3 linked regions of the Homo sapiens genome follow. The protein of the gene in region 2 interacts with the protein of the main gene of each other region in a biochemical or structural test. Each region holds a gene or a part of one and is shown on either strand. Other genes may lie near its edges. The genes, in order: CNRIP1, NSRP1 and CNR1.

Evidence for each region.
Region 1: the proteins of NSRP1 (region 2) and CNRIP1 form a complex in vitro, tested with the Homo sapiens proteins (one study listed by BioGRID).
Region 3: the proteins of NSRP1 (region 2) and CNR1 form a complex in vitro, tested with the Homo sapiens proteins (one study listed by BioGRID).

Annotation. Positions count from the first base shown.
Region 1 is NC_000002.12:68,307,083-68,318,862, forward strand, and holds part of CNRIP1 (CB1 cannabinoid receptor-interacting protein 1), read right to left. Parts: intron 10,236-11,780; exon of another isoform or gene 10,226-10,235; coding exon 10,075-10,225; intron 1-10,074.
Region 2 is NC_000017.11:30,180,873-30,189,812, reverse strand, and holds the end of NSRP1 (nuclear speckle splicing regulatory protein 1), read right to left. Parts: intron 8,906-8,940; coding exon 8,797-8,905; intron 5,199-8,796; coding exon 4,139-5,198; 3' UTR 3,338-4,138; downstream 1-3,337. UniProt on the Homo sapiens protein: RNA-binding protein that mediates pre-mRNA alternative splicing regulation.
Region 3 is NC_000006.12:88,161,318-88,174,042, forward strand, and holds the start of CNR1 (cannabinoid receptor 1), read right to left. Parts: upstream 5,031-12,725; 5' UTR 4,486-5,030; exon of another isoform or gene 4,430-4,485; intron 2,978-4,429; exon of another isoform or gene 1,640-2,977; intron 1-1,639. UniProt on the Homo sapiens protein: G-protein coupled receptor for endogenous cannabinoids (eCBs), including N-arachidonoylethanolamide (also called anandamide or AEA) and 2-arachidonoylglycerol (2-AG), as well as phytocannabinoids, such as delta(9)-tetrahydrocannabinol (THC).

The sequences.
Region 1 (11,780 bases), on a different chromosome or scaffold from region 2:
TACGTATTTTACAGTTGCAATTATTTAACATTAAATGTTATACAATTGTATATATTGTCTAACTACATATCATTGTTACAATTTTGTCAAAATGTTATACAATTGTATATATTGTCAAACTATTGTTACAATTTTGTCAAAATGTTATACAATTGTATGTATTGTCTAACTACATATTCTTTGCTACAATTTTGTCAAAATGTATAGGATTGTATATATTGTCTAACTACATATCGTTACAATTTTGTCCTTGTTTGTTGAGGCAGGATCACTCTGTGGCCCAGGCTGGAGTATAGTGGTTTGATCATAGCTCACTGCAGCCTTGAATGCCTGGGCTGGAGTAACCCTCCCACCTCAGTCTCTGGAGTAGCTGAGACTACAGGCATATGTCACCACGCCTGGCTCATTTTTTATTTTTTATTTTGTAGAAATAGGATTTTGCTATATTGCTCAGGCTAGTCTTGAACTCCTGCCCACATGCGATCCTCTTGCCTTGTCCTCCCAAAGTGGTGGATTTATAGGTGTGAGCCACTGTGCCTGGCCTCATTGTTCCAATTTTAATGATGACATAGGACTCTTATCGTGATGTATCATGACAATTAGACTACTCCCCAGATGTTAGATATGTCAGTTGCCCTCTAACAAAAAGTGCTTTAATAAATAATTTTGTATATATGTCTACTTTAATAGGAGTGGAATTATTTGGTCAAAAGAAATGAATCTCTATGGCTGTTCCCACATATGACCATTTTGCTCCTTTTAAAGTATACAAACAATCTTACAATGTTAACAGCAAAGAAGGCATTGTTTAGAAAAATGATATCATTGGGCCAGGTGTGGTGGCTCACCCCTGTAATCCCAGTACTTTGGGAGGCTGAGGTGAGAGGATTGCTTGAGCGCAGGAGTTTGAGATGAGCCTGGGCAACATAGTGAGACTCCATCTCCACAAAAAATTTAAAAATTGGCTTGGCGTGGTGGCATGTGGCTGTAGTCCCAGCTATTCAGGAGTCTGAGGCAGGAAGGTCTCTTGAGCCCAGGAGTTTGAGGTTACAATGAGCTATGATCATGCCACTGCACTCTAGCCTGGGTTACAGAGTGAGATTCTGTCTCTTATTAAAAAAACAAAACAAAACAAAACAAAACAAAAAAAACCCCCGATGTCATTGGGAATTACTTTTAAAAAATAGATTTCCTAGTTTACTTTTCACTACCATTTACAAGAATGCACATTTCTACATTTTAACTTAGTTTCTTCTTCTGGAAAATGTTTTGTCAATATTTCTGTTGAAGATTGGTATTTTTAAAATATCACAGACTCTTGAAGAAGTGTCATATTTCTATTGTTTTATTCTCACTTTATACTGTGTAGAGACATAATTTCTTATTTTTCTTTATGATTTCTATTTAAAAATCAAGTTAACTTTTCTAGTCTATTTTGATTTTTCCGTAATTTTAGATTTTATAATTTAACTTTCCCACCTTATTTAACCTTAATTTATATATTTATACCTATATCATTTTACAAAGAATTTAAGAAGGTATTTAGCATTTTATATAAAATGAAAAAACACACATAATGATGGTCTGAAATATAAGCATATTAAACATAATGCTTGGTTTGAGCTTAGATTTGATGCTGGGCTGTCTGGTTGCTGGTGCAAAAATTAAAAAAACACAGATTGTCAATTATCAGTGATTTTAATGTTTTTGCAGAACTTTTTTTTTCTACCCAATAAGACAGCACATGACTAGATGAACAAGAGAGATGCCTGCCTCTCCCCACCCCTTTCAGTGAGCACTGAAATATCTCAGGTGGATCCAGAATTCAGAAAACAGTCCGAAAAAGGAGTTAAATCATCTCATCATTAGAAGGGAGAGAAATATTCTCAGTTTCCCAGAAGAAAAAAAAGTTAAAAAGCCTTTCTAGCTCTAATTTGTAACAAAACAAAACAAAAATAAAAATGAAAACACTCCACATGAAACATTTAGGGCATTTAGCTGTGAGCTGTTTTTACACACAGCTATTTCTTAGAGCAAACTTTCATAACCTTTGAAAGCCCAGTGTCAATGTGCAACTCAGTTAAAGTGCTTCTAAACTTGTTTAAGGGTGTTGTTTTTGATGGCTTAACTGGTCTATCAGTAGCATTTAATATTTCTAGAGGTCTAAAAATACATTTTAAAATTCTGTAGAAATGGATGTTTTCCTCAGAAAAACATAATAGTCACTCAATAAAACCCCCAAAAGGCAAAAGTCATGTGCTAAATTGAGAATTCAAGACATTCCTTCTAAATATCTTTATTTTTGGTCCTGACTTTTATGGGAAATTTCTGTCAGACTTTCAAGTAACAGTTAAGTTCTATGGTATGTAAATTGTTTCAGAGCATAAACTATAAAAAAGTTCCTAATTCACTTCACAAAGCTATTAACCCTAATACCAAAATTTAAGACTGCAAAGGCCTTCTAATTGTTCTTTGCTTTTCTGTCTCCACTTCTAATCTAAGCACTGGCACTAGAGTGCTTTTAAGGTGCCTATCTTATCACATTACCAGAAAGGGGTACTTCTCAACCCCTTGAAAGACTGGCAGGAGAAAATGACAGCCCTATCTGTTGGAAGTGGCAGAAGACAGCATCAGGACTGGCAGAGAAGCTGGAAATAACCTAGAAAAATCCTGGAAGAAAGAGATCTGCAGAAGGAATAGAACCCCAAATCTGACTATAAACTCTGCTGTAATCCCTAGCTAACTGCATATGAAGGATAGTGGGACATGGACACCCTACAGGGGCCATTGAAAAAGCAGACAAACCAGCAAAAAGTCAATCCTTGAAAGATAAAGTTGTGCTAAGATTAATAGCTTCTTTATATTTACGTATGTATGTATGTATGTATGTATGTATGCATGCATGTATTTTGAGTACATTCCCTAACCTCAGAAGTAGGTATCAGAGTAAAGAGTTTTGGATTGGCCAGGCACGGTGGCTCACTCCTGTAATCCCAGCACTTTGGGAGGCCGAGGCAGGTGGATCACTTGAGGTCAGGAGTTCGAGACCAGCGTGGCCAACATGGTGAAACCCTGTCTCTAATAAAAATACAAAAATTAGCCAGGTGTGGTGGCACGCGCCTGTAGCCCCAGCTACTCTGGCGGCTGAGGCAGGAGAATCGCTTGAACCTGGGAGGTGGAGGCTGCAGTGAGCTGAGATCGCACCACTGCATTCCAGCCTGGGCAACAAAAGTGAAACTCCATCTCAAATAAAGCAAAACAGTTTTGGATTGATAGAGCAGCTGGAGAAATAGGGGAACCTCAGGGTGGGTATATCCAAAAATCTCAGTATAAGCTCTCCAGTTCCTTGGCTGACTGCTAAGCTCCATGGGCACAAAAGGAGACCAGGCTAGAAAAGCAGCAACTGGAAGTTATAAAAACTGAGCAAAGAGATCAGCTGCTGCATACTGCTGGAAGATAGAATTTGAAGTTTGAGTACAGGAATGTTTACTGCCAGCTAGAATACAAAAAACCAGTAATACCCAGAAGAATAAAGCAGAAACTAGAGTTGGTAATAAACTATCCACAATGTTAAGTTTGTGGCCAAAAATTACGAGACATGTAATGAAACATGAAAGTGTGACCCATATTAAAAAAAAAAAAAGTCAGGCTGTAATAATTTACTCTAACTAGAGCCAGGTGTTGGATTTATTAACTACTTCAAACCAGCAATTACAAATGTGCTCAGATAAATTAAGGAAAACATGGTCTCAATTAGCCAACATAAGGAATCTTGAGAAACTGAAACTATAAAAAAGACAAATGAAAATTCTAGAGCTAAAAAATGTTATAGAATTTAGAAGATAAGCACAAGACTAGAAATAGAAGAATCAGTGAACTTAAGGATACATCAGTAGAAATGATCTAATCTGAAGATCCATTAAAAAAAGAAAGAAAATTGAACATGTCCTCAAAGACTTATGGGATAATACCAAGCTTTTCAACATATGTTTAGTTGGGGTCCTACAAAGAAAGGAGAGAATGAAGTATTAAAAAAGTATTTAACAAAACAATGGTTAATAATACTCCAATTTTGGTGAAAACATTAACCTCTAGATTCAAGAAATTCAGTGATCCCCAAGGGGGGAAAAACCAGTTAAGATGCATCATAACCAAACTACTGACAAGCAGAAAGAACTCTATGAAGGGATCATTTTACTGTATATGTATTATACTTAAGTTAAAATATTTCAAAGCAAACAAGGGAAGGGAATAAATATAGGATTAGAAAACAATGAAGTAGAAAAACAGAGTGAAGCATGTGAAAAAAAAAGCTAGGATTTTGAAAAGGCCAATAAAACTGAAATCTCTAGCTAGACTAATCAGAGGGTATAAAAATAAAAATTTTGAATAACAAGAGTGAAAGAGTAGGTCGGGCGCGGCAGCTCATACCTGTAATCTGAGCCCTTTGAGAGGACAAGGTGGGCGGATCTTGTGAGGCCAGGAGTTCGAGACCAGCCTGGCCAACATGGCAAAAGCCCATCTCTACTAAAAATACAAAAAATTAGCTGGGTATGGTGGTGCGCACCTGTAATCCCAGCTACTTGGGAGGCCGAGGCAGGAGAATTGCCTGAATCTGGGAGGCAGAAGTTTCAGTAAACCGAGATTGCACCACTGCACTCCAGCCTGAGAGACAGAGTGAGACTCCATCTCCGGGGAAAAAAAAAAAAAAAAAAAAAAAGAAAAGGATCAAAGAGTAAAAGAGTAGACATTATTAGAGATCCTAAGACACTGAAGAATGGCGGAGATTATAAACAACTTTATGGGAATAAAGTTGAAAATTTAATTGAAATAAATGACTTCTAAGATAAATTACAAAAACTCAGGAAATAAAACCTGAATAGCCCGATATCTATTAACGAAATTGAATTTGTAATAAAAAATCTTCAAATAAAGTATAATCTATGCCTTCATTGGTGAATTCTGACATTAAGAAAAATATCATTTCTATATAAACTCTTCCAGAAAATAGAAGAATGAACACTTTCCGAATCATTTTATGTAGCCAGCATTACTCTGATACCCAAAACTAGACAAAGGCATTATAAGAAAAGCAAACCATAGACAAATATCCCCCCCGGAACATAGATGTCAAAAATCCTTAACAAAATATTAATGAATCAAATCCAGTTTTACATACCGAGAATAAACCATGACCAGTGGTATTTAACCTGGGAATTCAAGGTTATTTTAACTTTGAAAAAGCAAGGTAATCTACCATAAACAGAATAAAACACCTTATGATCATTTCAAAAGATACAGAAAAACTATTTGAAAACATGTTATAATACGTTCATGATTAAAAAAACATTCAGTAAACCAGGAATAGAAGAGAACTCCTTTAACCTGATAAAAAGATTTACAATAAAGAACCTTACAGCTACTATACTTTGTATTGAAAAACAGAATGCTTTCTCTCTCAGACTGAGGGACAAGAATGTCCACTCTCACCATTTCTATTTAGCAGCATACTGCGAAGGTCCTAGCCATTGCAATTAGGCCATAAATAAAATGAATACAGATTGGAAAGAAAAGAGAAACTATTTACAGATGACATGATAGCATATTTAGAAAATCCTAGGGATCCTCCAAAAACAGCTATTAGGATTAGTGAGATTAGCTAAGTCTCAGGATTCAATATCAATATACAAAAAAAATCGATTTTATTTCCATATACCAGCAAAGATTCCATTTACATTATTCAAAAATATGAAATAATAAATTTAACAAAATATGTATAAAGTCTGTAGAGGAAATACTGTAATATATTGTGGAGAAAATTAAAGATGACCTAAGAGATATTTCATGTTCATGGTATAGAAAACTCTATATTAAGATGTCAAATATCTTTAAGTTGACCTATAGGTTTAATGGAAACTCTATATCCCAATTTTTGGAGGAATTGACAAGCTCATTCTAAAATCTATATAAAACACAAAGGACCTAGATTAAGCAAAAGAACTTAGAATAAACAAAGCTAGAAGATTTATGCTACCTGTTTTAAGGACTACAATATAGATCAAACAAGATTGTTTTGGGTCTTCTATGTCTTTGGAATTTCCAAATTAAAAAGACATACATTGAGTATGTAAAGCAACTAGAATTCTCATACACTGCTGGTGGATATACAAAATGGTACAACAGTGTGGATATTTCTTACACAGATAAACACATACTTACCATGTGATTTAGCAATTGTCCTCTTAGGTATTTACTCAAGAGAAATGAAAATATGTTCACACTGAGACTTATACTCAAATGTTCACAGCAGCTTTATTCATAATAGCAAAAGCTGAAAACAACCCAGATGTCCATTTATTGGTAAAGGGAGAAATTATGGTATATCCACACAACATAATATGCTACCCAGAAATAAAATGAACCAACTACTGATATGTGCAACATAGGTGAATCTCAACATTATACTAAGTGAAAGAAGTCAAACAGCACTGTTCCATTTACATGAAATTCTTACATAGTTAAAACTAACATATTGAGATGGCAAGCTCAGGATAGGTTAGGTTGGGAGGAATTAACTGCAAATAATTTTCAGGGTAATAGAAGTGTTCTGTTATCTTTATTGGGGTGGTGATTATATAGTAGCATCTACTTGTCAAAACCTATGTAACTGTAAAGTTGGTGCATTTTATGTTAATCATATCTCAAAGCTGATTTCAAAAACTTCAATGATTTCCTATAGTCATTAGGATAAATCCAGTGGCAAAAAGGTTCTATATCATCCAACCCCTACTTACCTCTCTGGCTTTATCTTATACTGTCTTTGCCTCACTCTATGCCCACCATGTTGGGCTTCTCATCCATTAGAATACATACGCTGTCTCCAGCTCTTGACTTTTACAACTACTCTTTCCTCAAATGCTCTTTCTTTCCTCAACTCTTATTCATCCTTCATTTTTTCCTCAAGAAAACCATCCCGCAAATCTTGGACTAGGATAAGACCCTTGGTATATACTCTAACAGCACTACTTTTTTGCTATACTTTTCATATTAGCAATTATTTACCTTATCATTGATAATCATGTATAAAGTATGTTTCCACCCTCAAGATCAGAAATTCTATGAAACCCGGGTTATCTATTTTGTTCACCACTCTTCCCCCTGAGTCCCTGATATACAGGAAATCCTCAAATATTTGCTGATAAAGCAAGCAAATTTTAAAAATCTAAAAATTCTAAATAAAAGAGCATATAGAATTTAGCAATATATTAATAATACATGTTTAAGTAGGGCTTATTGTAAAAAATAAGGTTTAGTATTTGGAAGTGTATTACTTTATGTAATTCATCAAATATATCAAATAAGATAAATTATCTCCAACTACTGCTACTAGCTGTAGTTGACTGCTAGCAGCAGTCAACATTATTCTAGAAACATTAGACAATGCAATATGACCAGGAAAAAAAAAGACAGTTATATTCAGATTCTGACCATCTATATGAAAAACCCAAGATGATTTGCTGAAAAATTTTAGTAAGCAAGTTCAGTAAGGTGGTCAGTTACAAAGTATATGAATACATATTATAAAAACAGTGTATCTAAAACAATGCAGTATTGGTGTAACAATAGATAGATCAATGGAATAGATTAGGGAGTATAGGAGGAGATAAAATTTTTGCAATATAAGAAATTTCTATGAAACTGACCTTTGGAGAAGCATAGATTATTTAAATAATTGTATTAGGACACTGTGGGCAAATACTTTCCAATATAAAAGTAAGAACTGAAATAATATCTAAATCTGTAATTCATCTAAAATTTAACAAATGAGACCATAAGAGTTCAGATGAAAATACACAAATGCCACTGTGTATATGTCTATATATAATTAATTAATCTGGGAGTCAAGGAAGACTTTCTAAGCTGGATCTTAACTGCAAAATAATAAAGGAAAAGGCTAACATGTTTGACTACAAAATTTATATTTTATATTGTAAACAAAATAAAAATTAAAATATTAAATGAACACTCAAGATGTGATAAAAATGACGATTTTAAATTTATAAAGATTTTTCAAAAAATCAATAAGATACACTTAAGCAGAAAAATGGGTGAAAACTATGAACATATAATCCATGAAGCAAATACAAATAGTAAATGAATATGTCAGGATTTCAAATTAACAGTAAGTAAAAATTGAAGTATTTCAGTCAGATTAAAAATATGTAAACATGACAAACTATACCTAGTGCAGAGAGAAATGGATACTTAAATACAGATGATAGGCGTGTAAATTGCCTAGCTTTTCTGGAGGTCAGTGAGGCAGTCTTATAAAATGCCTTAACGTGCACATTTCTTCTAGAAATCAAGAAAACATTAGACAATTGTACAGTACTCAGTGATTTGTAATGTGGTTTTGTTTATAATACCGAAAACCAGAAATAATCAGCAATAAGTGACTGAGGATAATTTGATACATTCATAAAATACAATACCCATACAGACTTTAAAATGACATTCCATATATATATATGGGCATATATTTGACATTGAAAGATGTATACAAGTAGAAAAAAGTATATATATGGAATGATACTCAAATATATATATTTAATGACAGGGTCTTACTCTTGTCACCGAGGCTGGAGTGCAGTGGTGTGATCATAGCTCACTGCAGCCTCAACCTCCTGGATCCAAGTGATCCTCCTGCCTCAGCCTCCCAAGTTGCTGGCACTACAGGTGTGGTATCACCACACCCGGTTAACTAAAAAAAATTTTTTTAGAGACAGGGTCCCACTATGTTGCCCAGGCTCACACATATATATTCAAAGACATAGAAACAACTTTCTAAGAACATTTATTGACATGTTAACAACACTTCTCTCTTGCAGGAATTATACATTTCCCTCATTTTTGTATTTTTCTGTGTTGAAGGTTCTTTGACAGAACAAGAGCACTTTCTAAAAATAGTTCAAACATTGGATGCAAAGGGATGAGCTGCTAGATTATTTCCTTATGTGACTATTGTGGTTTTAAAAAGTATAATGGGGACTGGGAACACTTTAAGTTTCCAAAGGTTAGATAGGCATTTCTCAAAGTGCATTCCCACACCATCCTCTTCAGGATCTGGTATGCTTGCTAAGAGTTTCTCTGTCCCCACCCTAGCTCTACTGAGCTAAGATCACTGGAGAGGGAACCTAGGACTGGAATTTTAAACAAACTCCCAAAGAGATTCTCACGCATACCGATATTTGAGAACCCTTGTGATACTTCCTATAAAGCTAGAGGGCAGACAGTTGAAGGTTGTTCTTGCAGAGGGAAAAGGCTGCCCAGTTTGCAAGCAGCAGTTTAGGTGAAGCTTCCTTTTCCTGTGCTTTAGCAAGCTTGCTTCATCACCTATTTATTATGTTTGCACATATAGTTAAATCTATGTCTTGACTCTATCCTTTCTACCAATTTGTTTTTTCTTACTTGGGGCCATATTACCAGGGTATATCATTTTATTATATATGATATCTGATAGGATTACCAGATATTATATATAATAGGTATATATAATATAGGTATATATATATTATATAGGTGTATATATAATAGGTATATATTATATAAAATAGGTGTATTATAGGATATTATATAAGAGGTGTATTTTTCCCATGACACTTTTTTTGGCTCCTCCATTTAGCTTTAAGTAGCAAAGTGTCATTCAAATCAGCTTTCTCTTAACCAGAATATTGTGGCCTACTTGGAATCAGAAACTTTTCACAGCCAATTATCTAAACCAGTTCTGAAGTAGACTATAACTGGGAAAATGGCAATGTAGGTTCTGTCTCTTCCAGAACCATCTGCTTCTGCTTATGGTGTCTTTTCAGCATCTACAGGGTCAGTCTGTCATGCAAAAGAGCATTAATTAAGTAGTTCTCTCTCCAGCAGATGCTTGAAGGAAATCCACAACTCAATTTCCACAGTAATTGGCTCCCAACACACCTTTTCTTACAGAGAGATAGTGATTGTTTTCTTTTCTGTGGTTTCCATTTTCCATGGCACCATACTCCTATACCCGCAAGCAAGCCTTACCGGCATGGTGATCTGGATGGGTTGCCGTTCTCCACTCTTCGTTGGGGTCACACCTTCTGTGTCATATGTACCCGTATAAACAACTCTGTCCCCATCAGGCTCTTTAGACTTCAGTTCCAGTGGGACAAGCACACCACCAATGGAAATATTCCTGCAATAGACTTGAGTTGACCACATACGGTTGAAATTAGCCTAGGCACCCTGTCCTGTTTTGGACCAAAACTCTAGGCAGGAAACTTACAGGGTTTCACTAAGGGGGGCATTGTGGTGCGGGAGAAAGTTCTGCAAGTTCAGGGGGCAGTGCTTCTCCTATTTATGAATTAAAAACCTACCTATCCCCAGCCCCAGACATTAGGATTCAGTTGGCCTGGGATGTAGTTTGGACACTGGTACATTTATTTTAAGGTTATCTAGGTGATCTTAATATGCAGGTAGGATTGAGAATACTGAACTCGTCCTCTAATATTTTTTTTCTCCTGTTCCAACAATCAGGGGTCCTATGATTTGGAGTACCTCAAGCCTTCTACACCATCAGAAATTCTCACTGGCATCATTCTTTTGTGTTAGGATAATGGTTCTCAAAGCCAAGTCCCTGGACCAGCAGTATCAGCATCACCTGCAGACCTTAGAAAACAAATTCTTAGGCCCTACCATAGACTAAACTAGAACTTCTAGGGAGAGCTCCAGCATCTGTGTTTTAACAAGCACTCCAGGTGATTCTGATATATACTCAGGTTTGAGAACCACAGGATTAGAGTTGAGAAATCCTTGATAGCATTAAAATGTAACCAGAAAAAATAGTTTTATTCCTAACAAATTAACTTTTAGATTAGTTTGAACACTAGAGGAATACTCTAAAAAAAAAAAAAAGAAATATATTAACAGATAACTCCGGGGATAAGGTTGGCAGGAAAGAAGGGAAAGGAAAAGCCTGGATTATATCCAGGTGCACAGAACACTGGGAAATGTGAGAATAAAGGGTGCATGGAGCTGTGGGGGATGCTGACAAATAGATGAATCAGGAGTACCAGAAACCATCCAGATTTGGTTCTAGGTCCTTGCACCTTGGAAGGCTAATACAAGTTTACTGAATTAAAACGTAAGCTATAAGTAGTATCTGATGAATTCAAAGTCCTTCCACCCCCGCAATAATGCCCACCATATGTAGTAGATACAATAAATGCTGGTTTATTTTCTCTCTGCAGACTAGACTTTGGTAGGTAGAAACGAGAGGTAAAGGGGCTCCACCCGCAGTTCTTCCGGGTAGGCTACTGCATGCTCCCACACACTTTCCCGCCAGAGGTCTACTGGGTGCATTATCCAGCGGTCGCTGGCAAGAAATCGTCCCTGCCATGGATAAACCAAAAAACATCCTCTTGCTGTGGGGATGTTGCTAATCCCAGGCACCATCACCAGCCTGAACAGAAAACTCAGGAGAAAAAGAACAGCATACGGCATGGAAAACCGTGAAACTAGGCCAGAGAAGGGGCGGCCGCTCTCTTACTAGTGTCTGCTGCTCCACCCCAGGGTCCCAGCCACTGAATGGCGAAGGGAGTGGGGAGCATCCCTCAGGGAGCCCCAGTAATCACCCCTCCCCTGCCTTTCCACCTCATTCCTCCTTTCTCCCTCCTTCAGCCTTGCGGGCAGACCCTGTGGGCCGCCTGGACCGCGCGCAGGAGGGCTGGGATTGCGGTGGCTGAACCCTG
Region 2 (8,940 bases):
CTTAACATTTTGTCATCCTTGTGAATGAGTAATGGTATTCACTGTGGTTTTAATCTGAACAAATAGTCACTCGCTGCTGAGTCTATTTGATATCCATATGGAGAAAAATCTTAACCCCTATCTTACACCACAAACAAAAATTAATTCCAAGTGCACTGTAGATCTAAATGGGAAATGTAGGCAATAATGCTTCTAGAAAATGTTGTCCAGTATAACTTTCTGCAGTAGAAATGTTCTATAAACCTGCACTGTCCTATGTGGCAGCCACCAGCCACATGTTGAGCATTCGAAATGTCTAATGCAACTGAGGAACTGTATTTTAAATTTTATTAATTTTAATTAACTTTGTAAAATTAGAGATATCTGTTCATTAAAAATACCATTAAGAGTGAAAAGGTAAAGCCATAGAGGGGAGGGAGAAGTTCCTTACAAATAACTCGTACCTAGAATATCTGAAGAACCTGTACTGGGGCCAGGCAAGGTGGCTCATGCCTGTAATCCCAGCACTTTGGGAGGCCGAGGCGGGCAGATCACCTGAGGTCGGGAGTTCGAGACCAGCCTGACTAACATGGACAAACCCCATCTCTACTAAAAATACAAAATTAGCCAGGCGTGGTGGCAGGCGCCTGTAATCCCAGCTACTCGGGAGGCTGAGGCAGGAGAATCGCTTGAACCTGGGAGGTGTAAGTTGCTGTGAGCCGAGATCATGCCATTGCACTCCAGCCTGGGTAGCAAGAGCGAAACTCCATCTCAAAAACAAAACAAAACAAAACAAAACAAAACCTGTACTGGATTAAGGAAAAGGCAGATAGTTCCCCTCCACACCCCCCTCAAAAAAAAAAAAAAAAAAAAAAGCAGGGAGTGGAAAGGTAGTTAATGCCTGTAATCTCAGCACTTTGAAAGCTGAGGCAGGCGAAATTGCTTGAGCCTAGGAGTTTGAGACCAGCCTAGACAACATAGTAAAACCCCGTCTCTACAAAAAATTAGCCAGGCGTGGTGGCATGCAGCTACAGTCCTAGCTATTTGGGAGGCTGAGGTGGGAGGATCACTTCACCCTGGGAGGTCAAGGCTGCAGTGAGCCATGATTGCATCACTGCACTCTAGCCTGGGTGACAGAGAAAGACCCTGTCTCAAAAACAAATACCAACCCCCGCCAAGATACCCAAATGTTAAATGTTAATAAAGATGTGAGAGCCATCAGGGAACCACAAAATAAAACCATGAGATACCACAACACCTACCAGAGTAGCTAAAAGACAAAAAGCCAGAAGACAAATACCAAGGGTGAGCAAGATGTGGGGCAACTGGAACTCTCATACATTGATGGAGGGAGTGCCTTTTAGTTCAAATATTCTGGAAAACTAATTGGTAGTTAACTACTAAAGCTCAACATGAGCATACCCTATGAATCAGCAATTCCATTCCTCAGAATTACCCAACCAAAACATACATGTATGTACTAGATGACAAGCGCAAGAATGTACCTAGAAGATACATTACCTAGAAGATATTATTATTCATAACCCCAAAAAGAAATAACCAATGTCCATCAACAGAATGTAGTAGTAAAGAATCTACAAAACAAGCAAAACTACTCTAAGGTGCTAAAAATCAGAAAGAGTAGGCTGGGAGAGAAGTTTAAGGGGAGCTCCTATGGCACAGGTAATGTCTTTTTAAACTAGGTGTACTGTGTGAATCCATTAAGCTGTAAACTCCATGTGCAATTTAAACCTTATACTACAACAAAAAAATTTACTAAGAGTGTTCTGGTAACTTTTGGCACAGAGCTATCATGAATGGAACCTTGTATCAAATAGGACTTTTTGGGTTGTGACAGCAGAAATCCAATTCAAACTAACCTAACAGAAAAAGGGAAAAGTATTGGTTTAAATGTCTTAAAAAAAAAAAAAAAAAAAAAAAAAAAAAGCTACACTAGAGCCAGAGATGCAAAAGCAATCATCAGGTTTTTTGTTCTTCTCTCTGTCTGGCTTTCTTGTTGTGGGTTTTTTTTCTGCCAGGCAGCAAGGCACTCTCCATGAAACTCCAGACTTACCTCATCGCCATAATCAGCAATGACAACAGAAAACATCTTTCTGTAAATTCTGACAACATGACCAGCATCAGCCTAGCTTGAGTCACATACCCTTACTGTAGGCTATTCTGCCCCATTTGAACCCGTGGACTAAGAGTAGTAAAGGTGTGTTTTCTCAAAGGCAAATCCTGCTGTTACCAGGAAAAGGGGGAATGAATACCAGAGAGGCAAAACCAACATTCTGTATATTTGGAGGAGACAGAAGAAAACTCTTCATTTGCAGTCTCTCATCCTGATTTATGTCAAATTAAGTTGGTTAATAAAAGTAATTTATAGCTTTCCTATCTAAGGATCCAAGCGGCTTTGTAAAAGTCTCTGAGCTTTTCCCTCTGGGAGAGGGAAACTGAGTTTATCATCAGATGTCTCTGACATCAGTCTCTCCTCCTAGACTACCTTGCACACTACGATCAAATTAATCTTCCCAATGCATGGCTCTAGTTATAAAACAATCCCAAGAAAGAAACCATACTCCCCACCAAAGTTAAAGATTTTTTCTGTCACTCATGGTCCTTCCATGATGTCACCCTTTTACCTTTCCATACTGATGTTATGTTGCTCCCTTTTTGTACACCAAGTCAGTGATTTTGGGGGTTTGTCACTGTCACTGATTGACTTTAGAGTATTAGGATGTAACTGACATTTAATCTATCAGTCAGAGATTTGGGCGTTAACTTTCCTGTGACTTTTCCTTTCTGGTTTTAAAGGTACAATAAAATGATTTATAAATTCTAAATCTGACCCTTAATATATTTCATCTAGTCAGCATTCTTATTAAACCAAGTTTATCCTTCTAAAAATAAGAAAGTGTGCTCTTTAGGTAGAGTATTGTGAGATATATGAACAGCATTTTCTTAATGGGAAGACCTAGTAGAGAACTATTTTCTCCACAGCATTCATCTTTCCCCATAAATAAAATATTTACAGTGTATAATTATTTCTCCTGAGTTTCAAAGACTCAGAAGAAAGATACTAGTTTTATTTTTATACACAAGTGGAACTTGTAATAAACTGCACTATCTTTTTCAGAGTAGGTGAAACAAGACATGTTTAGAAACAGGCCACCTAGATCTTTAGCTAATTTCATTTAGGCTAATGTCTCCACAGCTTCACCTTTAACTAAAAGTGATTTACATATATAACCAATTTACTAACTTGTCAAGGTTTCAGAATTACAAATTAATTTCTACTAAAAGCGAAAAGATGAATTGTGACATGAGTAAAATTATTTTAAAATAAATGCATAAATAAAATGTATAAGCATATCATTTTATTTTCATTTAAGCCAACTATGCTGTAAGCTATTTAGACAAGATGATTCACATTTTATACTTAAATACAAATTTCAGAACATAAAGTATATTTTCTGTTTTTCAAATCCATATTTTATCTGAAATACATTTCCTGCAACAAAACATTATTAGAAGAGTTAAATTATTTATTTAAAAAAAATTTTTTAGAGACAGGGTCTCATTCTGTTGCCCAGGTTGGAGTGCAGTGGCATGATCATACCTCACTGTAACATCAAATTCCTAGGCTCAAGTGATCTTCTTGCCTCAGCCTCTCGAACAGCTGGGACTACAGGCATGGACTACCATGCTAGGCTTTTTGTTTTTTAAATAGAGACAAGGTCTTATTATCCTGCCTAGGCTGGTCTTGAATGCCTAGCCTCAATATCCTTCTGCCTTGGCCTCCCAAAATGTTGGTATTACAGGCACGAGCTACCGTATCTGGCCAAAATTATTTTTTAATGGTTGTAGTGGAGCAAATTTTCCTCATTATGTACCTACAGGGAATTAGCACACTCTTAACGGTTCTTGAATACAACAAAGAATGTGGTATTGATGAGTACACACTATATATAAATTCAGCCAAACATCCACATCCAAACATCCAAGCTGTAAGACTGACTTTTAACTTAAAATTTTGAAAATAAATTTAAAAATGCCCTCCAAACTACTGGTAACACACTCCTTTATGGTTTTACGCAGCAGGTTCCAGGAATTACAGTTTTCTGTGCTTCCTTAAATCTTTCTCTTGGGGTAGCCATCAATCATCTTCTTTCTCAATATAGGTCTTTGCATTAACCCGCGCCATCTGCCTGGCCAAGTACCTGTCTCTAGCTGACATTACAGTTTCTTCATTGTTCCGCTTTGCAAACTTGCTCACTGCCTCAGGTGGTCTCTCTTGTTCTTTACCCTTCTCTTGCCCTTCCTCTGTGAGTCTGTGTTTTGCTCCCAGTGATGATTCAGAATTAGAGGGTTTCTCTTGGTTTCTTTCTTTGTCCTTTGCCATGTTTCTCATTTTGTTGGATCTTTCTTGGTCAAGAAATTTATCCTTTGCCCTAGAATTTGGGCTGCTTTCCTTTCTGTCTTGATTTCTTTCTGAAGACTGAACACCTACCTCTCGTTTTTCTCTATCTCTGTATTTATCATTATTTTCATATCTTTCCTTCCTTACTTTCATATGCTCTTCCTTTGCTTTGCTTTTCTCTTCCTTCTCTCCTTTCTCACTGGGTCGGTTCTGATCATTTTGTTGTCTATCTCTTTCTTGTTCTCTTTGGGAATATTTCTCCCTATCTTTCTCCCTTTTCCATACTCTGTCACTTCTTTCTCTTTGGTCCCTCGCCCTTGGTTTATCTTCCTGTTCATGCCTCTTCCAATGGGAATCTCTATGACTGGCCTCTCTGTGCCTATGAGAATCCCTTTCTTTCCGGTAATCACGGTCAGTGTAATGGTTCTCTTGGTCTCTGGATTGCTTCTGCTGGTGCTGATCTTCCCTTTTCTCATGTCCTCTCGACGTTCGTGATCCTTTCGTGTGGTGCCTGGTACTGTGCCCTCTTTCTTCACTAGGTGACCGAGAGTGGTTTTGACTCCTGTGGTGCTTGAAGTCATTCTCAGGGGTCTCTATGACCTTTTCCCTTCTGCAGTTCACTCTAGTTTCTTCTATTTCATCATCCGCACTGCTCTTAGCATCGAAGTCACTGTCTGCATCTGGGTTTTCCTCTACTTTCACATCAGTTTGAAGAATGCATTTCTCTTGTGGTATTCTGTTTTTTGAACTTACTTCATTGGAGAAGCCCCTTGATTTTTCTTCCTTTATACCAGATCTTAGAAACAAAAAACAAAAAAGGGCAGAAAAAAATGCCACATTATCAGTTGTAATAAGCAAATGAAGGGTTCATATAATTTTTATCAATACTCAAATCAATACACCTATAGTGATATATACTGTCTGATTATCCAAATGCAAAAAGGTCCTGATGTCTATGCAAACTAGTATTTTCAAATTCATACCATTCAGAATATTTTCAATATTTGTAGAAGTGAAAAGAGAAAATTAGCCCTTGTCTACTATACTACTAGAACCTACAGGCAAGGGTCTGTACAGGTCTTCATTTTTTGGTAAGCCTAAGACAAAGAATAATTGGGAAAAGTAATAAATGTTCTGAATCTAAGTTCTATTTTCACAACATGAAGCTTAAGTTGTGACTGTTGGATTTGTTGTTTCCTTTCTTATTTATTTATTTTGAGACATTCTGTTACCCAGGCTGGAGTGCAGTGGCACAATCTCGGTTCACTGCAACCTCTGCCTCCCAGGCTCAAGTGATCCTCTCACCTTAGCTTCCCGAGTAGTTGGGATTACAGGCCTGCACCACCATGCCCAGCTAATTTTTGTATTTTTAGTAGAGACAGGGTTTTGCCATGTTGGCCAAGCTGGTCTCAAACTCTTGACCTCAGGTGATCCAACCACCCTGGCCTCCCAAAGTGCGGGGATTACAGGTGTGAGCCACCATGCTTGGCCTTTTTCTTTTTAAAAAATTATAAAAATAGTCCTAGAAATACATGAAGATAATCTTTGCACAGCAAAATAGTGGCAAATATAATCCTAAATATTTACTCTCTCTCATGAGTGTATCCTGATTCACTCCTTGGCACCTATCACAACAAAATGGAAATATATTAATTTGTCCATTAGAATCAACAATACTAAAATTATATTACCTTCATTGTTCCAGCTGGCAAGTACAGTTAACTTTATAGTATGAGTATAATGTAAATAAGAACCACTCAGTGATTCTTACTAATCACTTACTAATCACACTAATGGTGCAACAACTTTGGTTCTCCAGGAATTACTGGCAGAACTATCTTGGCTAAAGGACCCACTAACAGTTAGGAATTCGATTATTAGACTCTAAGAAGTACAACTATGTCAACGACATTACAGAGTTTCATGGCAGCCTAATAAATATTCCAGATGAAACTCTAATACAAAGATATAACGTAATATAATTTCCATTCAAAACCTGAATCTTCAAATACATTTTCTTAGGTTCATACTTCTCACCAATTTTATAATCAAAGCCTAGCAGCGTAGGGAGGGAGTGGGGCATAAACTTCCTCTCCTCACCTTAATTCTATTCTCCTACCTCTTCCCTTCCTTAGCAACACAGACTCAGATCTACCCAGAACATTCCTGTTAAAAAAAATTTTTTTTTTTTTGCTTAGGACAGACTCTTTTACCTTCAGCTACATAATTATGGCATAATCATCTCACCATTCCTATAATACCTTATAACTTTATTCAAAAATCCTCTAATCCTTTACCTTCTAGACCAGCATTAATAGAAATGCCTCAAGAAATGGTAATGTTCATATGTGAGCTGTCCCCAGTATGGCAACCACCAGCCAAATATGGCAACTGAGTATATGAAATGTGGCCGCTGTGATCAAAACTTTAAATTTTATTTACTTAATTTTATTATTTATTTATTATTATTATTTTTTGAGACAGAGTCTTGCACTGTCACCCAAGCTGGAGTGCAGTGGCGCAATCTCAGCTCACTGCAACCTCCGCCTCCTGTGTTCACGCCATTCTCCTGCCTCAGCCTCCCAAGTAGCTGGGACAACAGGCGCCCGCCACCACGCCTGGCTAATTTTTTGTATTTTTAGTAGAGACGGGATTTCACCGTGCTGGCCAGGATGGTCTCAATCTCCTGACCTCGCAATCCGCCCGCCTTGGCCTCCCAAAGTGCTGGGATTATAGGCATGAGCCACCGTGCCCAGCCATTTTATTTTTTGAGATGGAGTCTGGCTCTGTCGCCAGGTTGGAGTGCAGTGGCGCTATCTCAGCTCACTGCAATCTCCGCCTCCCGAGTTTAAGCAATTCTCCTGCCTCAACCTCCCCAGGAGGTGGGATTACAGGCATGTGCCACAATGCCGAGCTAATTTTTGTATTTTTAGTAGAGACAGGGTTTCACCATGTTGGCCAGGATGGTCTCCATCTCCTGATCTCATGATCCACCTGCCTCAGCCTCCCAAAGTGCTGGGATAACAGGCGTGAGTCACTGCGCCCAACCTACTTTATTTACTTTAAATTAATTTAAGTAGCTACACGTGACTAGTGCCTACATACTAACAGTGCAGTTCTAGCCCCGATATGTAAGTCTTACATTTTAGGAAGGCTGGGTTCTATTTATGAAAACAAACCACTTTCCTTTTTATACACTATCTGAACATGTATATAAGACTTATATTGTAGACACCTAATTCTTTCCAACTTTCTCCTTAATTCTGACAGCAAAATCATTTTAAGGTACCAGGCACCAATCATTTTAAGGATCATGAGGAATACCCACATTCTTATTTAAAAAAAAAAAAAAAAAAAAAAAAGCAGCCAGGTGCAGTGGCTCATACCTGTAATCCCAGCACTTTGGGAGGCTGAGATAGAGGGGGGATCCCTCAAACCCAGGAGTTCAAGACCAGCCTGGGCAACATAAAGCCCCATCTCCACAACAAAAATACAAAAAGAGGCTGGGCGTGGTGGCTCATGCATATAATCCCAGTACTTTGGGAGGCCGAGGCGGGTGGATCACCTGAGGTCAGGAATTCGAGACTAGTCTGGCCAACATGGTGAAACTCCATCTCTACTAAAAATACAAAGATTAGCCGGGCGTAGTGCATGCACCTATAGTCCCAGCTACTCAGGAAGCTGAGGCACGAGAATCCCTTGAACTTGAGAGGCAGAGGTTGCAGTAAGCAGAGATCGCGCCATTGCACTCCAGCCTGGGTGACAGAGCAAGACTCCATTCCATCTAAAAAAAAAAAAAACAAAAAAAAAAAACCACACACACAACAACAACAACAAAAAACACAAAAAGAAAATTCGCTGGGCATGATGGCTTGCACCTGTAGTCCCAGCTACTTGGGAGGATCATTTGAGCCCATGAGGCAAAGGCTGCAGTGAGCTATGATTGAACCACTGTACTCCATCCACCCTAGGCGACAGAGTGAGACTCTGCCTCAAAAAAAAAAAAAAAAAAGAAAAAAGAAAAAACTACAATTTGATTTTGCTTTCCCTTGAAGATTTTGCTCTCCCTTGTTAAGACCCATAAATCACTTAAAAATTCAGAAACTTTATACATTAAAAGTCTGTCTTTGGTTTTACAATAATATTAAACTCAATCACTGTTTTAATGTAACAATTTCTGTGAAATGCAGAATAAAAATGATCTTAAACTAAATCTGTAGGTTTTAAAATCAAGAAACTGCAAATTTCTAGCCATTCATTCAGTTAGGTAAGGCTGGCTGACAACACAATATGCAATGTTGTAATCTTCCATCTTTCAGAGGGTTAAAATGACCCCACAACCACAGATTATTAACAGTATTTTTCTTCAAAATATTTCATACACGTCTCCTCACCTGGCTTCACGAAAGCTGCATTTAGGTACTTCCTCTTCACCAACTGCTTGATTTAATAGGTGCCTATAAAATCCACTGAGATCTTTCTGCTTGGTTACATCCAAACATGCTAACAGAGGGAAAGCAAAAATTAGAATATATTCA
Region 3 (12,725 bases), on a different chromosome or scaffold from region 2:
GCCCATTTGCTCGGGTTTTGGGAGTAAACAATTCTTCCCTCAAAAACCCATACAAACTATGAACCTCGAGAATTCCATGGTGATTAAGTTATTAGCTTAACCTGTCCAAGTGAAACTTAAATTAGAGGCTGTCCATTATTAATTCATCTATATGGAAAATACTTCAAATATATGGAAAATATCAATGGAAACTAGATCAAGAATATATACATGCAACTAACTGTCCTCTAAACTATTATAAAAAATATACTTTTTTTCATTATGGGGCCTTGTTAAATCAAGAAATATAATCCAGGAAAGCTTTTAGTAAATACTTTGATAAGAACTAAAGATAACTACACTACTTTATGTCATGACTTTGACCTCTTATTAGCAATATGTATTAAACATGCCATGTGAGCAAGTTTGAGATGGAAGTTGCTTGCTCTCACATCAAACAATTTCAAAAGCAGCAAGAGAGGTGACAGCGTCTACTAAAAATCACCCACCTTACAAACCTGCCCCCCTAACAAATTTCCTATAGTTTTAACTCACTTGTGGTAACGTTGTAATGTGTTATATATAAAAACTATAACTATCTTAATATGCATTCTGAGATATGGTAATAACCTTCTGTATTTTCCTCCAACTTGTACAGCCCTAATTTCCAAAAAATAATAAACAACTAAAAGGATTGGCTAAAAAGAAACTGTCTTAAACCCATCAGTGTTTATGATAAAATTATAATCAAATGTGGTGATGTTCACCCTGGCATACTTGCAAGATTCTTAGAACGCATGGGACTGGCACGGATTTCCACCTATCCTGGAAAACAAGAATGGCCTCGTTTCCATTCAAGGTGGATATCTGCTTTAACTCTTCAGTGTCCATCTGCACAGCTGCTTTGAATGCGGACATTTCCCCAAATTTGTAGTATTTATTTAAAATCAGAATTACATGTTCAAATGTATAAAGGCAACATATTTAAATTTTTATTTCAGTCATGATTTACATCTATAAAAATGTTTATACATGTAAATAAAAGTGTGTTTCTATGTCCAGGTGTCCAAAATTACGCAATATATACTTTGATATTATACATATATTCTGGGTGAAGTTACTGTTTCTTTTAATCCAGGAAACATTTTGGAGAAATCTGAATTTATAAAGTCAATCCAATCTAATCTAAGAATATACAGAGAATTAAATGCTTATCAAAGTATTAACTAGCAATTCAGTGGCAAAAAGTTGAATCCCCCAAGTCCCCAAAAGCAGCATTCATGCAGCCATAATATAAAGTTACCATTTCTCTGAGGATAAGATTAGGAAAGAACTGGAGATTCAGGGAAGAAAACATGAAGTTAAAATTTTGGCAACACAAAGTATATAAACTGATTTTGATTTCCTCTTATTCTTTGACTTCTCTACCAGTCTTCAGTATATAAGAGAAAAATCAGCAAAGCAGGCTGCCTCTCAAAATACAGATATGCAGTATGTAAACCTGGCCCTAGCACAGTGTTTCAAACAATGTTGGGTCCACATTGTTTTAGAGCCAACAGCAGAATTATAAATAATTTAAACCCAAAGCCTGGTTTCACTCTAACTATTTGTCAGTTCAATTAGAAAATGATAAATACAAAAATAGAAGAAACAGACTTACACTGGTGGAGGCATGGCATCCTTTTCAGCAGGGAATGAAAGCTCTCATCTATGTTCTTTATGCAACTGAGCTAACATGGAATTTGGTAAGTAAGATGGAGCCTGTCCTTTAGGTTACTGCCTGTTATCATGCTTTAATTGCTTTAATTAGCATTTAATTCACTGTATATTCTTAGATTAGACTGGATTAACTTTATAACATAGATCAATTCAGACTTCTCCAAAATATTTCCTGGAATAAAAGAAGCAATAACTTTCACCCAGAATTCTTATAAATTCAAGAAGCTATAACCAAATCTTTCATTTTGCTAGTTATGTGTCATTAGGTATTTTCCAATTCAATTTGTTACTCTTGTTTTTGCAGCATTCCTGGATAGCTAGTTATGGGAAATAATCCCTTATTTGGCCAACTGTTTTCTGGTAAGAAACATTTGGTAAGCGTGGTGAACTATAAACTGCTATTAGAAGTTCCATCTCATAATAGTTTATTCTTACATAGCAAAGTATTTGATTTCTAATTCCAAACACTAATATGCAAGACAACCAAGAAGCCTGTCTAAATTTCCCCGTGGTTAATGTTAATTTTGAGTCAAAGCAAAGAACAGTGTTATACGACTGTTTTGAAACAGTTTCTCAGGCTTTGCCTTAGTAATTAATAAGCTGACACTGCATACTAAACACTTATCAACACAATCAATGGGGCTGCTTCCTTCTTGGGAAAATAGGTAAACCGAATCAAAGAGTTTTCTTTTGGAAGAGGCTGAAATATGCCACAAATACAGTGGTTCTTTTTGAGAATTTCATTCCCAGCAGTTTCATCTTGGTAACATTTAACAATTTCACTATTTTACCATTTTGAAATGCCAAAAAGAACACACTGATCCTGCAGCTAGGCTTATTAGAGAAGAGCAATCTCACAGGCAAGACAGAGAGGAACATGGTCCACTGGGAAATGGGTAACAGAAAAAGACAGAAAACAGTGGATAACAAACAAAGCCAAGCACTACTTCAATGTGAGACCTGGTGTTCATCAGAATTTAAAACTTTACACACTAAATAATAATCACTTATGGCTTATTTAAGGTTCTAGTCATAACATTCTTTTTACATACATATATTAATGTTATTAAAATTCAGGGGCATGAATATCTAATTTGCTTTCCTAACAACGAGTATGCAAGCACAGTAATTTTATTTGTGAAAGGCCAGAATTGGGTATTTCCACCTTGTGGCATCATTGTACCCCCATGGACACTGAGAAACACAATGAGACCTCTCCCCATCAGACACTTGATACATACCTCAGCCAAGAGCGCTCCTCGCCTGGAGTGGGAGACATCTTTGAAACAAAAAGAGTCGGTTTACAGTAAGTTCTCCTGATAAGCTAAAATGGATTAGTTTTTTAAAACCATGTCCCACATCAAGTCTCTTGCCCCACTATGGTAACTGCCATTGTGCCTACAAATAAGTGCCTGTAGTATGCAATGTTTAAAATTCTGGAGGTGCATGTCTTCTGCTCATGTATGGATATAATCTGAAAGTAATTTGTCTCACTTAAGAAACTATAAATGGCCTTTTATTTTTATAAAATTGCTCTTAACTGAGTTAGAGAGCGGGGGAGGGGGAGGAGTACCAGGGAAAAAAAGGACAGAGAAAAATCAATTAGTGTATCTTCCCTTGCAAACTGTCAGTAGGGTAGGATTAGAAAAGCAACACTTTAAATCACATAAAGTCCTATGGGAACCTTAAAGGTTGGTTGCTCTGAGCTTCTCAATATTCTGCAAAATAGATTGATGTCAGTGGTGACCCCACTAATACTCAGTGTCCGCTAAGCTTCCTCTAAGAAATTGCATTTCCCCCATTGTTCAAAAGATATTAACTTGGTAATAAAAATGAGGAGAAGTTATGGGACCCACAGAGATATCTTTCAACACCTTTAAAACCAGTAAATCTGTTCTAATCTCTTATTGGATTACATGCCCGAGGAGGCTTACTATATCAGGAAATCAACAACAAAGGCAAGAATAGCACTTATTTGGAGGAAAATAAAAAAAGATGGGAGGCAAAATGATTAATACGTTACTAAACATTTCTTTTGTTTTTTTATCTGTTCAATTTTAAATATCTGAGAGACAATCTATTAAAATCAGAAACATGCATGTTGCTTTTAAACTTCCAAATGACCAAATGACAGTTTCTCATGTCTATTACAGCAAACATATTTTTATTTGAGAGGTGATCCGTTTATGATTTGTAAGCCTTAACAAGAAATGTCTTTTAAAAATGCAACATTAACTTTAGTCATCTAACAGCTAGTTCTGAGTTAAACGGTTCCATCAACATTCAATTTTAGGTATTAGTTACATGGACATTTGTTTTTCCTCAAAGAGAAGTGGTTCCTGTAGCTTTTTATCAAAAGTTTATTATTTGACATACATCTCTTTATATGACATTTACTATTTTACATTAGTCAGTTTCTAGGCTTGCAGCAGAGATCGATGTATTTCCCTGGGAAGACTTAGCTGCTAACATGGTTTATAGGCATTCAGCACCAACTCAAGCGCCCGTTTTTCAAACATGCACAATTACCCATTTTCTACAAACAGACATCAGTGCATACAGAGCCAGGTGCACACACATTCAATAAATAGTAAATGGTAGAAATCTCCAGAAGTAGAACAGATCACAGTTAACAGGCTGGGGCCATACAGCTAAGTAAACACCGACGCACGATTCGCTCACACGGAATAAGAACTCCACGAAGGACACTTGGGGACCACACTGGTCGTACCCGAGGGGGCGGGAGGCGGAAAAAGTATTTCCAAACGCAACTCTGCCAGGTCTTACCCTTCGCATCCCCTGGTCCTCGGGACAGAAGCTCCCTTGGCACCTCTCGCCCAGCTCAGGGGCTGGTTGTCCGCTAGAACGAAATATCCCCCACTGACTACGGAGAGCTCTGCAGGGAGCCGAGGCCCCCGCCCGGGCCAAGGGAAGGCGCTGGCGCCGCGGGAGACAAGAAGAGGCGGAGGCGGAAAAGAAGTGGAGAAGGAAGGGGTGGCAGAGGGAGTAGCGTGCGGGAGGCGGCGCCGGCGCCGGGCTGCTGGCGAGGCGGGGTGGGGTGGAGTGGGGTGTGCCTCCGGCGGGCGGTCAGCAAGTCAGTCCGTCCGAGCGCCGGCGTCCCGGTCTCCAGCGCCCGCCCGCGACAGCGACCGGGACTGGCGCCCCGCTGCTCCGACCGCCGGCGAGCCTCGCCCCTTCCCAGGCTCTTCACTGGGTCCTCCCGCGAGCCCCGCCTGGCCCGGCGTGGGGCCGCCCGTCTCCGCCAGCCCGGGCGCCCGTCGCCTCGTCCCGCTCGCGCAGTCCCTGCCGCTCCCTCCGCTCGCGCTGTCTCTGGCTCCCTCTCGCTCCAGTCCCATTTATGAAGCGCGGTCCCATCACGTGTTAATGAGCCTTTGTCCTGCCCTGGCAGCGGCGGCGGCACAGACCCCGCCGAGGGAACTGCGCGGGGAGGGACCTGAGCGCAGCGCCCGTAGCCCCAAACTTTGCTTGGGGCGGGGGACCCGCCGCGGCGCCAGCCCTGGGGCCAGAGGGGACAAGCCTCTTCGGCCCGCGTCACCTACTTCTCCTCTTCCTCCTCCTCCTCCGCCGCCGCGCTCCCGGAGGCCCCCGCTGCCATGACCTCGCTGTGCTCCCGGATACCCTCACACCCTGACCAGGCCAAGAAGGGGCTGGTGCATGCGCCGCCCACGACCTCGGGGCCATTAATCACACGCTCCCGGGCAGCGCGCATCGCCAACACCTTCCGCGGGGGTCACGTCTGGGGCAGCGGGCTGAGCCGGAAGGGGAAGGGGAGCGGGAGCCCAGAGGCCGAGGCGCGCCGGGCCCGGGGGTGCGGTCTCGCGCCCCCTCCCTCCGCGCAAGGCCGCTCCCGTGGCAGGCGGCAGCGAGCTGGGCCCGGGGCCGGGCTGAGCTTTGGGACCGCGCTGCGCAGCCCCCGAGCCGTTCGCTACCTGGCTGCGGTCGCGCGGCCACCTGTCCTCCGCCCTCGGGGCGCCGCCCAGCTTCGCGCCAGGCGCCTTCTCCAGCGCCCGCCGCCCTTTCCCGGCGAGACCACTCGGGCGCGCCCCGCCCGCCGGTCCCCGATGCAAACAGTTGGGCTCCGTAGGCGGCTGGCTCCGCGCCTCCCGGCCCGGCGCGCCCCCTCCCCGGCCACCCGGGGCCCCGCTCCTCGCACCTTTTCGCTGGAGGAGGACGCCCCACTCCAGGGCCGGACTGGGGGCTCTGGGACTCGGGGGCGGCAGCGGCGGGCGCCTGGGGAGCCGCGGTGTGCTCAGCAGCCGCGGCAGGAATTAGGGGACATGCTCGTTAATTGTTTCCACTATCAGCCGCCGTCTGCCTCCTGTGTGCACGGATCAAACCTTAATTGGTCTTTACATTTATCATGGTGAATTGCGAACCTCCAAACAAGCCTGGGCCGCCGCTTCTGCCGAGGAGGCGCTCCCCTCCCCTCCGCCCCCGGGGCCCTGCAGGGTGTGCGGCGGCGGTCGTGGTTATTTAGACATCTTTATCTCTCGTGAGTTGGATCGGGAGAGGATCGCACGGTTTCCACCTGACGGAGCCACGTCACGTCGGCCACAAGGGCCCCGTGCTGGGCGCTGGGTTCGGTTCCCGGCCGTCCTCTTGTGGCCGCCTTGGCGTTCATTTTATGACACCTTGCCGGTGTTCCCAGACATCATCCCGCACCGCTCCGTTTTACCGACCTCCAGGTCTTCCCGCCCCTGATCAGACCCCAACAGCAACCGTACTATATCTGGACCCTATATTTGAACTACGTGGTGAGAATCTGTGAAAGCGAGCCTCTCAGGGAAAGAAGGAAGATTGTTGAGTTCAAGGTCCTGGAGGAGGGAAGGCTGTAAAACCGTTTTGGAAACGTCAGGCCAAATCGTACAAAGGCTTCCCGCAGAGCACTAGTGCAGTTTTTGAAAATCCCCCTAGACTGCTTTAGACTAGAAGTATTTCCGTCAAGCAAATGACCATTTGACTCCATTGAGAGAGAGAGTCCACCGCTGAAATGATTAAGTCCTACTAGGTGGGTGGTTAGAAAAGGTTATCAATAAAGTTCTGATGGACCCATCGATAGATGGAAGAATGACTGGGAGATAGATAGTAGATGTGGGATTAGTGCTGAGCCTTAACCCTGCTGCTTGGGGAAGGCTCTACTCACAGGCATTTTTAGCCCACCTCCATGGCAGAGACAGCTCCAGCGCAAGATTCAAAGGGAGGAGGCTTCAACATCTGTTGCTTTTTTCTTTTAGGGGTCGTGGTTGTTAGATTTTCCCTTCACCTCACACCCCTGGCAGTAGGAAATATTTGCAAAAATTTTCTCTCCTTATGACCTCGCAGACTCTGATTTCCCAAGAGGCCAGATGACAATAACTTCAAAGTCTCTCCTCCACCTGGCAGCTCAGTTTCAAATGACTGCTAGTAATTAAAAGAAAGGATCAAGGCAGCGCTTCCTCTGACTGTGATAAGGACATCTTCAGTCACAAGAAACCTGGGGGAGCTGGACTCCTAGAATGCTTTCAGGCCACAGGATTTCACTTGGGTGCTACCACCCTCCCCTGTAGCTGGAGGGCGTGAGCTGTTGGAGTGGCAGAGCTGTTCAACATCACTCAGCTAAACAACACTGACACACCCTGGTGGTGCTCCTTCTATAAGGAGCACTTTCCCACATGTTGATCTATACCTTCGTGGTGGTCAGCATCAACCTGTGAAAGGTATTCCATGGAAATCTTGTATCTCAACTCAGCCACACCAGCTTTTGCTTTTTCATAAAGAGGAACAATCTGATTATTGTGTCTCTAAGTCATCCCAAATATCTTCTGATTGACGTTGGGTTTCTTCACTGAATTCTATGAAATTCCAAGCAGAAACCTAAGATCGTTGATGGGCCAGTGTGACCTGTGGCCAGAGCCAATCACTCGGAATCTCATCTAGTAGTGACTCCAGCCGAGATAACTGTTTAGTTTGTTATTCTGTTGTTCAGGGTTGGGGGAAACCTGGAGCCTGACAGCTGAATTGTACTGACTTTCCATTTAGAGCTCAAGGATAATAATCAGTAATGGAGTCAAAATTTGACTTATGACCTGGCATTTTATCACCACAAGTGAATGCTGTGTCAAAAACAAGAGAGTTATGTTCCTTGGCAAATACTGTTCTTGTGGGCCTTCATGTGCATCTTTAAATTTTCGTCAAGGTATTAGACTGACAGACAGGAGAGCTGCTGTACTTTTTCCTTGGATTGGGGCAACTGGAAGAGGGGCAGAGATCAGACAGCAGATGGTGCGAGGGAAAGATGCTCTTCGGTACCTTGGAGTTCACATTTTGCAAGGATCACCTTTATGTGGGAGGAAATGATTTAGTTTCCACATGTGGTTGGCCATCCACTGTACTCCTGAGACAGTCAGCAAGAATGACAAATGCAAGCTGTCAGCCTCCCTATTAGGAACATTATGTTGAGAGCATTCATAAATTTAACATGAAGTGCTGAATGGCTCTTGGTCACCACAAACCCAGGTTGAATTTGAATCCATGACCTTCTGAGGAAATGCCCCGGCAGCCCCTGAACAGGCTTCAGTAGTCCCTTCAGTGCTAGGCTGCCTGGTTTTTCAGATCCTTATCCTTTTAAAATTAGAACAGGGCTATGATGAGCCAATTTACTGCCGTTCTGTGTAATTTAGGTTATTCACTCAGTGAAATGTAGAGGATGAGAGCACAGTTAAGGCTGCATATTTCAACTTCAAAGAAAGATCTCAATTTATGCCTGCCAAAGTGTTAAGAGTTCTACTGGCCATAGAGCATCAAGGAAACATGTCTGCTTTGGTGAGATAGCTGTGGATCCAAAAGGAGCTCTACTTCAAGATGTTTTTGGTTTTATTTTATTTTTTTTAACTTGCCATGGTTTGTCGTGCTTCTCTCCCACTCCCCAAATGGGTGGTCTGTTGGGGATGATGAGTCATGATTTCCTGGTTTGGAAAGCGACATCACTCTCTTTTAGAGTTTTGGGGGTTCGGTCCAAGTTTGGTCCTCACGTTTTCTTTGGTATTTTCAGTGTGATGCTCACACTACAGGGCTGGAACGCTCACTGATTAAGGACATTTTAGGAATGATATTATGACTACACGATTTCATTCTAATTCGGAGCATTGCTTTAGAGTTTCGACAGCTGTTATTGGCTCTCCCTTGAAGCATTTTGTTTTTCAGTGGCTCTGCATTACTAGATGGGAATCTGCTTCTTCACTCCCAGTCTAAAGGGTAAGTGTCAGTAAGCCTGCAGACTGGGCTGGGGCTCTGCCATCCACAGCGTAAGGTCTGAAATGCCTGCTCGTGAGTTGCTCCACCAGCGATGCGAGCAACTGAAAGAAACTCCTGCACCACTTCTGCGTGCTTCTCAAGAACTACAAGTTGGTGTTGGAAAAGAGATTCTTTTTCACTCAACTGTCAGAAATTAAACTTTGTGAGACCTGCTCTAGGTGGAGAAGTGGGTTGCCAGGGTAGGCAATGAATGGGTAAGGAAGGAAGGGCCATGGGCTTGTTTGACCTTGGGAGATACTGCGTTGTATTAGGTACAAAGAAAATTGCTGCCACTTCTCAGTGATCTTCCTGTATAACTAAATATTCGCTCATTAGGGCTTTTTGTTGTTGTCGTTCACCTTCTCACCTTCTTTCATTAAATCCAGATCTTTAACATCCCAGCTGAGCAGCACAGGGAAGGCTGAGAAATGGCAGGAAGGCATTTTCCTTTGTTCATATGTTTTGTTTTGTTTTTCATCACCAAGCAGAGGATTGGTAATGAGGAGATGGATCATCCTTTCATTTCAAACCATATGAGGAGTATGTTCCAACAGATAATAAACAAGCACATCGTGCAAAGAAGGGGGGTGAGGAGGCAGGTTAATAAAGCTTTTGTTCTCCTTTGATTAAACTCTTACAAACGAGTCATCAAAACTTTCCAATTAAAAGGCTATAAATATTATATGTCTAAATATTTCACTTTTAAAAAATAGGGCAAGCAGCAGTATTATAATGCTAAAATACGGCAAAGAATAGAAACATACTACTAAAAGATATGTACTTCTTAATCACTTGGCCTTCCGAGTAAACTCTCTTCTTGGTGTTCTTCATGGTTTATTTCAACTTCAGGTAGAAGCTTGGAAAAAGAAAAAGAAATGACCATCTATCTTGGTCTATGAGGATTAAATGAAACAATATACATAAAACAACCAGGCTGGTACCTGGAAGTTAGACTCTCAATCAGTGATTGCTGTTTTTATTTCTCCCACAACTTCTGCTACACTGTTGCTGCATCTGTGTTAAGTGTATGGAGAGGACCACAGCCTGGCTGAGGCTCTTTAATTCTCAAGCCATAGAGCAGGCAGCTGATTCATAAACAAAGTGCTCACATTTTGAGGGTTTCTTGGGGCTCAGCTGTGACTTCTTTGCTGTCTCTCCCATTCTAAACAGATGCTGTAGATTATCTGCTTTGCACAGTGGTCTAGATGTACTGATACCTTGAGAAGCCACCATTATCTACTCCCTGCAGTTCACCAGCTTTTCCTTGAAATGCAGCTGCCAGTAAAAATGAGAATTGGCAAAAGCCAATGGGGTGTGCGGTTTATCTTTGGATGTCTTGTCTGGCTTGTTGTATCTAAAACATTGTTAAAGAAACCGGTACAGTTTAGGCCTTATTGAAGAATTGAAAGGATCAGATTGTTTTTGAATTTTTTTTGTTTAAAGAACCATTAATTTAGACAGGCTGTAGTGGAGATTTGAGAACATTTGGGGATATAGATTTTACCCCCAGCTCTGGTGCTGATGGCCCAGGCTATCATGCACCATTTCTAGGCCTCATTTTTCTATTCTGTGTGATGGGAATAACACTAATATCTCTAATTTCCTTTATACAGTGTTTGTGAGTATCTAATAAGGTAGAAATATATTGGTAGAGCTTCAAGAAAAATTCAAACAATTATTATCAATAATTTATTTGATTTAATGGTCCACTAATTTCTTAGTTGTATCAAATTACATAGAATATTTTAATTATTCTTCTTATTTCAAGAAAGAACAATAAATAAATTGTGAATCTTAGAGCTTCGACAGCACTGATTTTTGTATTGAAGGCCCATAAAAGAGGATGTAATGTGTTAATAACCAAGTTAAAGACTCTTAAGCCAGAATACTAGATGAATGTAAAGCATGATTATAAGTATTGAAAGCAATTTTAGTTCATGGCACGATGATTTTTAAGCTGCGAATTAACTGATTGCTGTGGTCTAAGTGTTGGCGTCCTTCCAAAGTTCATATGTTGAAACTTAACCCCCAACATGATAGTACTAAGAGGTGGGAAGATTTGGGAGGGGATTAGGTCATGAGGGCTCCTCTCATGAATGGGATTAGTGCCCTTATAAAACAGGTTGAAGGGAGCTACCTTGCCTCTTTCACCATGAGAAGACACAACATTCATCTCTTCCATCACAGCTTGGTCTTGAACCTCCCAGCCTCCAGAACCGTGAGAAATAAATTTCTATTATTTCCAAATTACCAAGTAATTATACAGGTTTTTGCTATAGTAGCCCAAGTGGATGAAGACATTGATCTACCTGTGATTATTGCTACTACATCCTGCAAACTGTTGCCCACTGGGGGTTACTTTTTCAACTTAAGAGAACATAGCTTCCTTATACATAAAAATCTATAAAACATGCAATTTATTACCCTCTAAAAATATCCTTTTTCTCAAAACTGGGGTTGCTGAACGTTCAGGCTGCATATTCTCCCTATAGTAGGCATTGAGTAAAATAATTATAACTTTATCTCTGTATTGTATGTGGTTCTCAGGCATCAGAAGAACAACTGTAAGTGCAGAAATCCCATGCGAGAAGTTAATTTAGGAGCTATTAATAATTTCTCAGATATGATCTCATGTATTAACTCAGCACAACTCTAGTGTTAAAGTTATCAAAGAGCATATAGGGGGACGATGAACCATTGGTTAATGTTTTTAAAAAAATCTTTAGTTCTGAGCTTTATATCATGATCTGTTTTGAGGAACATCCTAATGTCAAGGCCACGTTCAGTCCTCTGACATCTTCCCTCCTTTGTCACCTTCTAGAGGAAGCCTTTCTTTCCCCCTTCTGCAGTTCTTTCTTCCTTTAATAGCTGTCTTTGTTTTAATAAGGAAACTGTCGGGGGCAGGGTGGAGATAAGGAAAGGAAAAATGAACTGAAGGAATAAAGAAACTACAGGAAAAGAGAAAATAAGAAAGATTTTTCAGAAATATTTATATCTCTTAGAGTCCCTTAAATACTAAAAATTAGAAACTCGAGATGGTATGTGACATTTGTACCCTGACACTTTGCCTGCTGTGAAGTGGTAATGGTGCTCAGCTTTCCCACGGCAGCCCCAAGAGTCTGACTTTAGAGAATTCCTCACATATTCTGCCAGGGCAGACACGTGACTAATTTATTTCTGTTCTAAAAGACCTCAGAGAAGAAGACTGGTCTAGAATATCTCTGAAAGTTAGAGCACATTGCAACAGAGTGGATATTTATTTTTATTTTATTTAAAAAAATGATTTAAAGATACTACGATGTCAAGATGACATCGTTAGGTGATATGGTCGTAATATGTTGGGACTAATGTACTCAAATGAGTGGGTCACTGAGTCAAGTCATGGGTTCATACTCAAGTTCATCATCTAATTTTTAGCCCTTTATTATTTTTGAGTAAAAATAGCATTTAAAAATACTGTTTTAATAAATACTGAAACATACTCATTATAAAGACAGACTAGGTAATAGAAAGTTTAAGTGAAAGTCTCCACCCCATACTCACGTCTCTCAATTCCTTACCCAGAGAAATTTGCTGTTAAGTGTGATGTATAGCCTTTTAGCCATTGTTTGTATATACAGTTGGTTGGATGAGTTAAAGTACAAATCCCTAGAAGTAGAATTTTCCAATCAAAGTTTTGTGCATTTCAAATGTTGAAAGAAAATGCCAATTGCATACCAAGCCCTTTAAATGGA